Linked DNA regions of Homo sapiens. The protein of the gene in region 3 purifies or fractionates together with the protein of the main gene of each other region. This does not show direct contact. Each region holds a gene or a part of one and is shown on either strand. Other genes may lie near its edges.

Region 1 (4,148 bases), on a different chromosome or scaffold from region 3:
AACACCTTCTATTTTTTTTTTTTTTTTTTTTTTTTAGAGACAGGGTCTTGCTCTGTCACCCAGGCTGCAGCCTGGACCTCTTGGGCTCAAGGGATCCTCCCACCTTAGCCTCCTGTGTAGCTGGGACCACAGGCGTGCACCGCCACACCCAGCTAATTTTTTTTATTTTTTTGCAGAGATGGGGTCTCTCTATGTTGCCCAGGCTGGCCTCAAACTCCTGGGCTCAAGTGATCCTCCCTTCTCGGCCTCCCAAAGTACTGGGATTACAGGGGTGAGCCACCTCACCTGTACAGCTTCTTTGGAGAATGGGCCTGGGCAGGTCAAACAGGGGCCACTCTACACCATCATGGCACAGCAAGAGCTGGGCTATGTAGGTTCAGTATTCTTTGTCATTTAATCCTTGTGACGACCTCGTGTCATCATTGCTGTTTTACAGATAAGGAACTGAGGCTCAGAGAGGTTCAGTGTCACAGCTAGCATTTCACTTACATATCACAGAGCAAAGGCTCTCTTTGTCCAGAGACAACGTGCCTTTAGGTGATAGAGCTAGGACTGGAACCCAAGTCTATCTGACTCAAAGTCCACACAGCTTGTCCCCCATCCCGCAGGGACCTCTCCACGCTAGTGAGCCCCACGAAACCCCCTCAGTGCTTCGTTCCAGTCTTTTACCTTCAAGCCCAGTCAGCGAGTTCTTTATTTCCACAAATGGTGCTATTAAACTAATGGCTTCGGGAGCTATAGGCTGGCCTCGGCACAGTTACACATCTCTCCACCCACCATGTTCTGGCTTCCAAATAAATACATTGGAAATTCCAGGAGCCGAAGCCCATTTGGAAACGTTTCCGGGCCACCATTTTGCTTTGGGATGGGCAAGAAGAGACACCCTAAACTTGAACTCCTGTCTGTGCAGCCTCCAGCCGGCCAGGCGCTAAATAAGGCCACGGCCCGTTTCCTCCTTCAAAAGTCCCTTGTAAAGGGCGATAGCAGACCCCATCAGGCAAAAAGCTGAGAAGCCAGGGTTGAAATAGAGGCCTCTTTCTGTTTGGTCAATCAGCAGCTGCAAAGGATGCGTAGGATGGAGCTAAATTTATTTGTTCCTTTCTTTCTCAGCAACAGCGACGAGGCCCGAGGTGCAGCTGTCTCGCCTCGCCTGTCTTTTGCAGGCACCGGCATGCACAGAAGATGGCTCTCCGGGAGGAAGATTCCTTTCCATTTTGTTCTCTCTCTGCCTCCGCAAGGCTCGCAGCCACCTCTCGGGAGTGCAGGGCCAGATCCTGTGCCAGCGGGTAGGAATATGTAGCTGCCTCCCAGCCCCAGGGTGGAAATCATGACCTTTGAGAAGCAGGCAAGCTGCACGGCATAGATACTCAGGCCTGGTGAAGGCAAAGTGGGGCCACACCCTAGAAAAACCACAAAAGTCCCCACAGCCTCTGCTTTCACTAGTCAGACCTGTGGGAAACTTGTAAGACACAGTCCATGTGATCGGCGGGTGGGGGCATGTTGGGAGGGGCCTTCCGAAGGCCACAGCCAGGCTGGCAGGGCAGAGTCCTTTCCAGAATTTATCTGTTTGCTTAAAGCCCAGCGGAGGGGCCACCTTCAGTCAACCCTCCAGCATACTGGTCCAAGTAGTTTTTTCAAAGTGCTTTGTGAGACTTTCAAAAGGTACCCATGGGGAGGGAAGTGAGAGGAGGAGGAGGGGACGGTGAAGAAACAGCTTCTTTATTTCTAGCCTTGCTTGAATGGCTTCTTGACGGTTACTGCTCCAGTTTTGCTGAGTCAGAAGAATCCCACAGCCGCTCACCGGAAACACAGCTGTTGGGCAAAAATAACCACAGAGCTGAGCATCATGCACCTTCCAGAAAAGATGGCAGAAAACCTCAAAACAAAAGAGAAATACAAAACAATAGGAGACACTGTCAAGAAAAAAAAAACAAAAACAAAAACCACCGCAGCTCACTAACCGATCCAAGCTGGTGGCGCTCTCCTGATCTCTCTCCACTCCCAGGCCCAGCAACGGCTCTGAAATAAAGCTAAGTTTGGCTATATATATATATATATATATATATATATATATATATATATATATATATATATGTATGTATATGTATATATATATATTTAGATAGAGTCTTCCTCTGTCGCCCAGGCTGGAATGCAGTGGCGCGCTCTCGGCTCGCTGCAACCTCTGCCTCCTGGGTTCAAGTGATTCTCCTGCCTCAGCCTTCCGACTAGCTGGGATTACAGGTGCGCCACCACGCCCAGCTAATTTTTGTATTTTTAGTAGAGACGAGGTTTCGCCATGTTGGCCAGGCTGGTCTCGAACTCCTGACCTCAAGTGATCCGCCCACCTCGGCCTCCCAAAGTCTTGGGATTACAGGTGTGAACCATCACATCTGGCCTACTTTTACACTGTAGTGGGTTTAATAGTGTCTCCCCAGTCACACCTCCACCAAAAAAAGAAAAGATATGTCCACAGTCTAATGTGCTGCAGCACCTGTGAATGTGACCTTAATGGAGAAAGGATCTTTGCAGGTGTAAATTAATTTTAGGATCTCAAGATTGAATCATCCTAGACTACCTGGGTGGACCTCAAATCCAATGACAGGTATCCTTATAAAAGGAAGGCAGATCCAGCTTGGGCAACATAGGGAGACCCTGTTTCTACAAATAGTTTAAAAAAAAAAAAAGGCTGGGCATAGTGGCTTACACCTCTAATCCCAGCACCTTGGGAGTCCAAGGTGGGCAGGTCACTTGAGGCCAGGAGTTCAAGACCAGCTTGCCCAATATGGCTTAACCCCATCTCTACTAAAACTACAAAAATTAGCTGGGCATGGTAGTGTATGCCTGTAGTCCCCGCTACTTGGGAGGCTGAGACACAAGAATCACTTGAATCCGGGAAGCAGAGGTTGCAGTGAGCTGAGATTGTGCCACTGTACTCCAGCTTGGGCAACAGAGCACGACTCCATCTCAGAAAAAAAGCTGTGGGGGACAGTGGTGTGTGCCTGTGGTCCCAGCTACTTGTGAGGCTGAGACAGGAGGATCTCTTGAGCCCAGAAGTTCGAGGCTGCAGTGAGCTATGATGGCACCACTGTACTCCAGCCTGGGTGACCAAGTGAGACCCTGTCTCAAAATAAAAAAAAAAAAGTGTGGCAGAGGTAGATGGGTAGATTAGACACACAGAGAGGAAGTCCCAGAGGAACTTGGAAGTGAGGATTGGAGTTTTGCAGCTACAAACCAAGGATATTAGGGCACTCATAAGAAACTAACAGAGCCACCCCAGGCTTCTGTTTACCAGGTCCTCCCCTGGCCATCTCCTTCCCCTTGTCTGGGCTGAAAACATTCACAGCATCTTGTTTGCGTGGACACCGAGTTTCCCTTTCCCCAGACTTCATAACGATCAGGAAGCAGGATGGGGCCTTGAGGACTCCCGAGACTAAGGGAGGAGTCGAGGGTCCCTGGTTGTAGATAAGTCTTGGCCACAGGCCAGGAGTGTGACCTCATTAACCAGCAGCCATTAGCCATTCACTGAGGCAGCTGGATCCTGGTTCTGCCCCTTACTAGCTGTGTGGCCTGGGGTAAGGTATTTACCCTCCCTGGGCCTCTGTCTCCTCATCTGTCCAATGGAGATAATTAGAAAACTTCCCTTACACAGTTGTTGTAAGGATGGAGCAAGTACATGCAAAGCTGTTCTTGAACGAGGCTGGACTCTGTGCTTCTTATTGTCCAGTGCTTTACACAAGTGTAGTAAGGCTATTGTTTTTCCCTGTCAGCATCTATGACACTATCTTTTGCTTCAGCATCCTGGCTTGCCTTCGGGAGACCATCTCTCTTCCACCCCCTCATTCCAGGAGAGGGTATATCACCCAGACCTGACCAGTCAGACTCAGCTCAGTTCAGGGATGGGAATGTGATCCAAAGTGGGTCCATCAGAGCAAATAGTTGCCGAAACTCGTAGGGAAAAGAAATTCACTTTCTCTTGGTTCCACTATGTGGTGGGATATGAGCGTGGAGCATCTCTGCTGCTACCTAGGGAGAGGCTGCCTGAGACCGATGCCAAAACCCCAGAAAGCAGAGATAAAAGATAGTGGGAGAGTCCTGACAACAATATTTGTATCCCTGGATCCACCTGTGCCTGAAACCATCCGTAG
Region 2 (3,652 bases), on a different chromosome or scaffold from region 3:
CACTTTGGCATTGTTCTTGACTGTGTTTCATTTTGAAGTTTTAAAGCTTCGTGCAACTGGTTTTACCCCTTCAATTTGAAAAGTTGTTTTAGAAATTGAAATAATTGTTGCTACATATTTCTTAGATATTTTCAAATGGTAAACACCTGCTTTATTTGTAGACAATACATTGAGATCAATGCTAAGGATGAGGAGGTTGATTTTTTTAACCTTATAATGTTTGTCTGATCTCTGGGTTCTAGAGGGTGTGGAAAAGGAAAGTGGTATAAATTTAATGACACAGTTATAGAAGAATTTGACCTAAATGACGAGACCCTGGAGTATGAATGCTTTGGAGGAGAATATAGACCAAAAGTTTATGATCAAAGTAAGTATTTACAAATGGATATTTTCCATTAGTTTTTTTATTTATCGTTTTCTATAAAAATTAATAGTATTCTTTATATAAAAACACAACAGATTTTGTTATTTTTATTGTACTACTGTTCTAGCAATAGAACCATGAGCAAGCTCTTTAATAACCAAAGTGAAAATGTTCAAGCTGTTTATAAAAATTTTTTTAAATAATTTCTTACAACAACCTTGAGGGATAGGTAGGGGAGCTGGGAGTAAGTTAAAAGGATGAAATGAGCATCAGAGAGAAAGTAATGAATACTGAAATTGAACCTTAAAAATAGTTTTGGAAGTAGTTATCCATTAAAATTTTCAGATTTCCTTTTCACTTATGTAGAGGTGTGACTAATTAGAGAAGACATTTCTAGCACCTGTGTTTTTAAAACCATATTTATTATGCAGTGTGGCAAAGCAGTCTTTCCCTCTACAATCCCCACTCCCAGGAAAAAAGAGTATGAGGAGAAGTACAGCCCAATCAGAACTTGCTATTTGATAAAAAGCTATTTGGTGGAGACCTTAGCATTTCAGAAACCTGATTTTGAAATCTTCTAGTGGTATTTCTAAATTTTTAGCTGTATTGGATTCACTGTATTAGATTTTGATACCATGCCATTATAGTTAAGCATCTTATGGTGGTAACCTTTAAGAGTTGGATATAGTATTGTCAGAATTTGCCTGGATTTGGCCGATCTTGGCAGAAATGGTTAAGTGAGGCCAGTTATCCCATCTTGTGCCACAGAACATATTTTTAAATGTCACTTGCTATTTGCTTACATTTAGACCTCCCTAGGATACTTACCTTCTTTCTCTTACTCCATTACCATACTGCTCCCTTATTCCTTGTCCCCACCTATATCACTTCCAAGTGAGAGATCCAGCTAGGCCCACAACTGAAGTATCCTGACTTCCATGCTAAGCAGTACTCTAAAGACACTCACATTTTACTTATACTTTGCATTTTACAAACTTAGGGAGTAGTTAACTACTTGCTGGAATAATGGGCCCTTTGTTTTAGATTGTCAAGACAAGAAAAACTTTTATTTACAGATGTGTTTCTTAATGTCTTGTTATAAAGCAAACCCATACACTGATGTGCGCCGAAGATACTGGAATGCCTATATGCTTTTCTACCAAAGGGTGTCTGATCAGAACTCCCCAGTATTACCAAAGAAAAGTCGAGTCAGCGTTGTACGGCAGGAAGCTGAGGATCTCTCTCTGTAAGTGTCTCTTCCATGTAATTTGCTGTGTGATTTCTATGGTGATGATGTGGTCTGTGACAATATACTATTTGAGATTTTAAAGATAATTAGCTAAGCTGGAGAGAAATTCTAAAAAGAATTCCAAAAAGAAAATAAATCCCTTATTGCTTCATGGTTATTTTCTTGGCAAGAAGTTGTTACATATTTAGAAACATGCACGTAAGTTATTTCATTCTAGAATTGAAGTGTTTTGTTTTTTGTTTTTTTGAGACAGTGTGGTCTCACTCTGTCACCCAGGCTGGAGTGCAGTGGCATGATCATAGCTCACTGCAGCCTCGACCTCCCAGGCTGAAGCGATCCTTCCACCTCAGCCTCTTGAATAGCTGGGACCACAGGCGAGGGGCACCAGGCCCAGATATTTGGTTTGTCTGTTTTTTGTAAAGATAAGGTCTCCCAATGTTGCCCAGGCTGGTCTGGAACTCCTGGGCTCAAGCAATACTCCCATCTAGGCCTCCCAAAGTGCTGGGATTATAGGCATAAGTCACCATACCTGGACTTTTTTTTTTTTTTTTTTTTAATGTTAGCAGCATTTGTTGAATACACTTTTTGTCCAAAGCATAATGCTATGCCAACACTGTCAGAATGTTGTTGTTTTTTAAAGGTCCTATTGTCAGTGAATTTGCCTTTTAATATATTGGGTCAGGAAAGTGTTTACTTTTTCATGTGAGAAATATGACTATATGTGTTTTATTAAATTTGAAAACTTGGTTCAATACTTTGTTCTTACACGACTTTGAGTGTGTGGCTCTAAGATAAGTTTATTTCACTGCTTTTTTAATGGCTGGGAAAGATATCTCACAATAATATGAAGGAAGAATTCATTTTGTGCTTAAATGTTAAATCTCATATGCCACTTAAGTAAAAATTTGTGTTAAATTTGCCCTGCACTATTTTATCTTCTATAATGTCAATCAGTTCTCCCAACTAATTAGAAAGTATTGCATTTTTAATTTCTTAATTGTTACATTATGATTGTATATATTTATGTGGTACAGTTTTATGTTTCGATACATGTATAATAATCAAATAGTCTAATACCCGTTTATGTGAATTTGGCAAGTCTTAGTAACTACTGAAAAAATAGCCACTTTATACTAGACAGAGTTTTCTGATTCTATCTCTTAGGTCAGCTCCATCTTCACCAGAAATTTCACCTCAGTCATCCCCTCGGCCCCATAGGCCGAACAATGACCGGCTGTCTATTCTTACCAAGCTGGTTAAAAAAGGCGAGAAGAAAGGACTGTTTGTGGAGAAAATGCCTGCTCGAATATACCAGGTAAGAACCATATAAAAAATTCTAAGGGGGAATATCCACGTGGACATCAAAATGTATCTAGTAGGTCCAGAAGTACTTCTGCTGGATTAGTTGTACCACTGGGGCTACATCGTCTTACACACTTGTCTCATGAACCTTTTATGCCACGACACAGAGGGGGCCATAGAGCTAGAGCCATGGAGTGCTAAGAACACAAGTATGAATACACACTCATGATTGGCAGGCACAATCACTGACCTGCTCTGTGAGTGTGAAATGTCACAAATAAACAGAGTTGTGGGGAGTGGGCAGTAAAGAAATCGTGTTGCTGAAATAAACTTATTTTGTCTGGAGAGAAAAACAAGTTAAGGTTCATAACCTTTGAGTGGGACTAATAAAACAATCATTGGCCATTATTTATTGAACACCTACTGTGTGCTACGTGCTTTAAGCACATCTTTAATTTGTAAAAGATTATTATGCAGTATCAGGTTTTATTCTCATTTTTTGGATGGAAAAACAGGTTCAGAAAAGAAGAAGTATGTGCCAGTGTCACAGGACAAGGATCTAAATTCAGAACTGTCTACTCAGTCCAGACTTTATACACTAATTAATCAAAAGCTCAGTAGCTAGAACAAGAGAATTTGAGAAAAATATCGAGTCTTACATTAAGAAAGAAAGAGAATTAAGCCATCTGACATAAAGGAAGCATGGAGTTGGTTGTGCTTGGGAGAGCTCTGTTTAT
Region 3 (3,652 bases):
TTCATGACATAATATAAAAGATAAGGGTCTAACTTAAGTCTGAGCAGGCAGAATAGAGCTGTGCTCCCAACATCCCTATCACAAACATATGACGAATGAACAACAAAACAACTGAATCTGTTTACATCATAACCATTGTCTATGTGATACACAACTGCTTGCTTTCTATGGGTTAATACCACCCACTGCAAGACTAGAGATGGCAGTCAATGGAGCATGCTTCTTTACAAATAAGCCTAAGTCTACAACTGCAGAAATAACATGGAAACGTTTCAGTCTATCCAGAGTACTTAAATATACTTTTAAATTTTTTCCTAAGAAATTAATTTTGATAGTATTTCCCAAGTCCTTCAACTAAGATACCTTGATAATTTCGGTCTTTTTTACATCAAAATCTATCCGTTGAAAAAAAAATTTTCCAGGTATTAGGAATAAGGAAGCTGGTAACAGCATGTATTCACAATTAATTGTTAATATTTTTCAGTAAGTTACAATAAACTGTTTTGCATGCTTGAAAAACTGTAAAGAAAAAGAATATTTATAGGAGGATTTTAATAGTTTGGTTTTTGTTTTTTTCTTTTTGCTTTAAAAACAACCCCTAATATTTATCTCTGACAACACAGTGGTGTGTATAAAGTTCATTTCCATGCTTATTACACAAAAATAACGATCAGAAATATCAATCTATCAGTGTCAGCTGATATATATCCAATTAATTCACTGCAGGAGGGAAAATAAAACAAATCTAAAGTAATCATTAAAGCTTACAGTTCAATTTTTTTCTTTTCCTTTTTTTTTTTTTTTTCTTGTTTGAAATTTTTTTGGTGTTTTTTGTGCTCTGTTGCAAGCTGATTCCTAGATTAATGGCCTCCCAGCAGATTTGAAAGGAAACCTGAAGACTTCTTATTTTGCTGTGCTTCTGCTTCCTGGTCTTGTGTAAGTCCCAATTCACTCTCAATTTGATCCAGCTCTGACTGGTCAAGTAGTTCAAAGTCATCACCTTCTTCAGTGTCTGTGTCCTCTTCTGGGATGGGGGCAGCCTGAGAAAGTGCTTGCTGCACACCCTCTAACTGGTCTTTGATAGCTGCAGTCACTGCAGCTGTGATAACATCCCCAGCCAGGTTGCTCATCAGGTGAAAGGTTTGGTCACTGTTCAGAGGAAGGGTGAGACCAGCTGCTGATTGCGTCTCTTTGCTTGGTCTGTGACCACTGTCCAACTGTTCCTTCTTTCTCTTGAGCTCAGTGGGCAAACCAAGGCTTAATTCATCTTCATCATTTGTTCCCATGCCATTTTCTAGAGATGGAAAATCTGAAAGATCTCTAGAGAAAACTTCCTCACTGGGTCGGTCAAGATCTGTGAAATGGATAACAGAAGTTCAGACTGAAGCACCATAACAAATTTCAAATAAAAGTGCTGTCTAAAGATATCTGACTTTAATCTGAACCCTCTGGCAACCTTGGCATTCATCTAGCCTCCTGGGTCAACTTGAATCAATTTAACCACATACTGAACTCCTCCTAATCCTGCAACACTCTTTCTCCACAGGGACACAAATACTACACATCCCTCTCCATATTTAGCTTTCCTCTTAAGCACAAAACAGTGTATTTACTGACTTAACATTCACCTTTGTCTGATATTAGCTTGAGGTTTTGACTAAAGTTTAAGCATTTACTATAAAAATTCCCCATCCTGCGCCTAGGGTGGGAATTATCTTAAGCCAATGAGTACACATGTACATGAAATTTAAAATACTATAATAAGTTTCCTTGGGTTTTGGTTAATATTATCCAGCCTCAGCATTTTCATACATAGAGATCTATTTCAGTGCCTGTAATCTGTGTTTGTTTTAAGCAATGAAAGGAAGATACTGCTCCTTCTATTCCATATAACCCAAGAGTTTATGGAAACATTTGGCTCTCTATAACTATAGCTGAAACTGACCATACCAAGATTTAGGACATTTGAAAGCAATGTCACATTAGAAGGCTAATAGATTTTATTGTTTTTACCTTTCATATAAAATCTTTTAATATAACAGTTAACTCCCTGCAACAGTGATTTGAAATCTTCAATTAATGAAAAGCCTTGTATGTGGCTTGGATTATTATTGTCTCTTTTGTTGAATCTGAGATGGGATGCTTAAGAACAAGGTACTTGTTATTCTTGTTCTTTAAAATATGACCTCAAATTGTAGGTACTGAAAGCTTGTAGAGCTTGAATGACCTTCAGCAATGCTCCTGTTCTAATTTAAAGGTGAGGAAATTGAGATCCACAAAAATTATGTCACCCGTTCAAGGTCATAAAGTTAGGTAGTGACAAAGGCAAGACTCCACTTGGGTCTTCCACCTTCCAAACCCATCTTCTTTCAAACACTGCACAGCCTCCCTCCCTCCTTCCTTTAAAAACAGAAAATGTCCTTTTGGAACATAAGTGTAAAATAGTTCATTCACCCTCCTCCTTTATAATCTGCTCATATGTTCAGTATATGGCCAAAACAAGGTAATCCAGTGAGACTAACAAAAGTTAAGTTACTGTACAAGCATTGACTCTCAATTTAAGTTTTGGACATAATTTGCATTATAAAGAATACTGTGCTTTCCTGTTTTTAATTGTACTTATTATAAACAAAGAATATACTGGATAAAGAAAATGTGGTACACATACACCATGGAATACTATGCAGCCATAAAAAGGAACGAGATCATGTCCTTTGCAAGGACATGGATGGAGCTGGAAGCCATTATCCTCGGCAAACTAACACAGGAACAGAAAACCAAACACACTGCCTGTTCTCACCTGTAAGTGGAAGCTGAATAATGAGAACACATAGACACAATGGTGGGGAACAGCACACACTGGGGCCTGTCAATAGGGTTGGGGGTGGGAGGAGGGAGAGCATCAAGAAAAATAGCTAATCGATGCTGGGCTTAATACCTAGGTGATGGGATGCAAACCACCATGGCACATGTTGACCTATGTAACAGACTTGCACATCCTGCACATGTACCCCTGAACTTAAAAGTCAGAAACAAAAAAAATAAAAATAAAAAGCTTTTTTAACTTTGAAGACAAATGTGAGAAACTCCGGAGTCAGCTTTGGACTCAGGGAACTTGACGTCCATACTTCAGCCCCTTTTAATGAGGACTAGGCCTAAATGTGTAGGATTAGCGTCTATCTTTCTCTCCCACATTATCGCTTGGGACATTTCAAAGACATTTCAGGAGGTAATTTTTCTAATTTTTGATTATTTTGTTTTCAAAATAAAGGCAAATTTGGACATTGACTGATTTATTTTCCTCATACTTTTTAAAAAACAGCTTTTGATAATTCATGCACCAAAAAAACACCCTTCTAAGGTATACAATTCAGTGTTTTTTAGTATATTCATAAAGCTGTACAAGCAGCATCACTATCTAATTCTAGGACACTTTCATCACTCCAAAAAGAAATGCATACCAATTAACAGTCACTCACTATTCCCTCCATCAGTCCATAGCAGCCACTAACTTAATTTCCCTTTATATGGACCTGCTTATTCTAGGCATTTCATATAAATGGAATTACACAGTATGTGGCATTTTGTGTCTGGCTTCTTAGCATGTTTTCAAGGTTCATCCATGTTGTAGCAAGTATCAGGACTTCATTTT

Evidence for each region.
Region 1: the proteins of RETREG1 (region 3) and MAP1LC3B2 purify together in Homo sapiens (affinity purification with mass spectrometry; 3 studies listed by BioGRID and IntAct, with this or other methods). This does not show direct contact.
Region 2: the proteins of RETREG1 (region 3) and USP24 purify together in Homo sapiens (affinity purification with mass spectrometry, with the first as the bait; one study listed by BioGRID). This does not show direct contact.

What each region holds. Positions count from the first base shown.
Region 1 is NC_000012.12:116,558,148-116,562,295, forward strand, and holds the start of MAP1LC3B2 (microtubule-associated protein 1 light chain 3 beta 2), read left to right. Parts: upstream 1-1,233; 5' UTR 1,234-1,286; intron 1,287-4,148. UniProt on the Homo sapiens protein: Ubiquitin-like modifier involved in formation of autophagosomal vacuoles (autophagosomes).
Region 2 is NC_000001.11:55,093,213-55,096,864, reverse strand, and holds part of USP24 (ubiquitin carboxyl-terminal hydrolase 24), read left to right. Parts: intron 1-242; coding exon 243-367; intron 368-1,468; coding exon 1,469-1,610; intron 1,611-2,777; coding exon 2,778-2,928; intron 2,929-3,652. UniProt on the Homo sapiens protein: Ubiquitin-specific protease that regulates cell survival in various contexts through modulating the protein stability of some of its substrates including DDB2, MCL1 or TP53.
Region 3 is NC_000005.10:16,473,881-16,477,532, forward strand, and holds part of RETREG1 (reticulophagy regulator 1), read right to left. Parts: intron 1,355-3,652; coding exon 861-1,354; 3' UTR 1-860. UniProt on the Homo sapiens protein: Endoplasmic reticulum (ER)-anchored autophagy regulator which mediates ER delivery into lysosomes through sequestration into autophagosomes.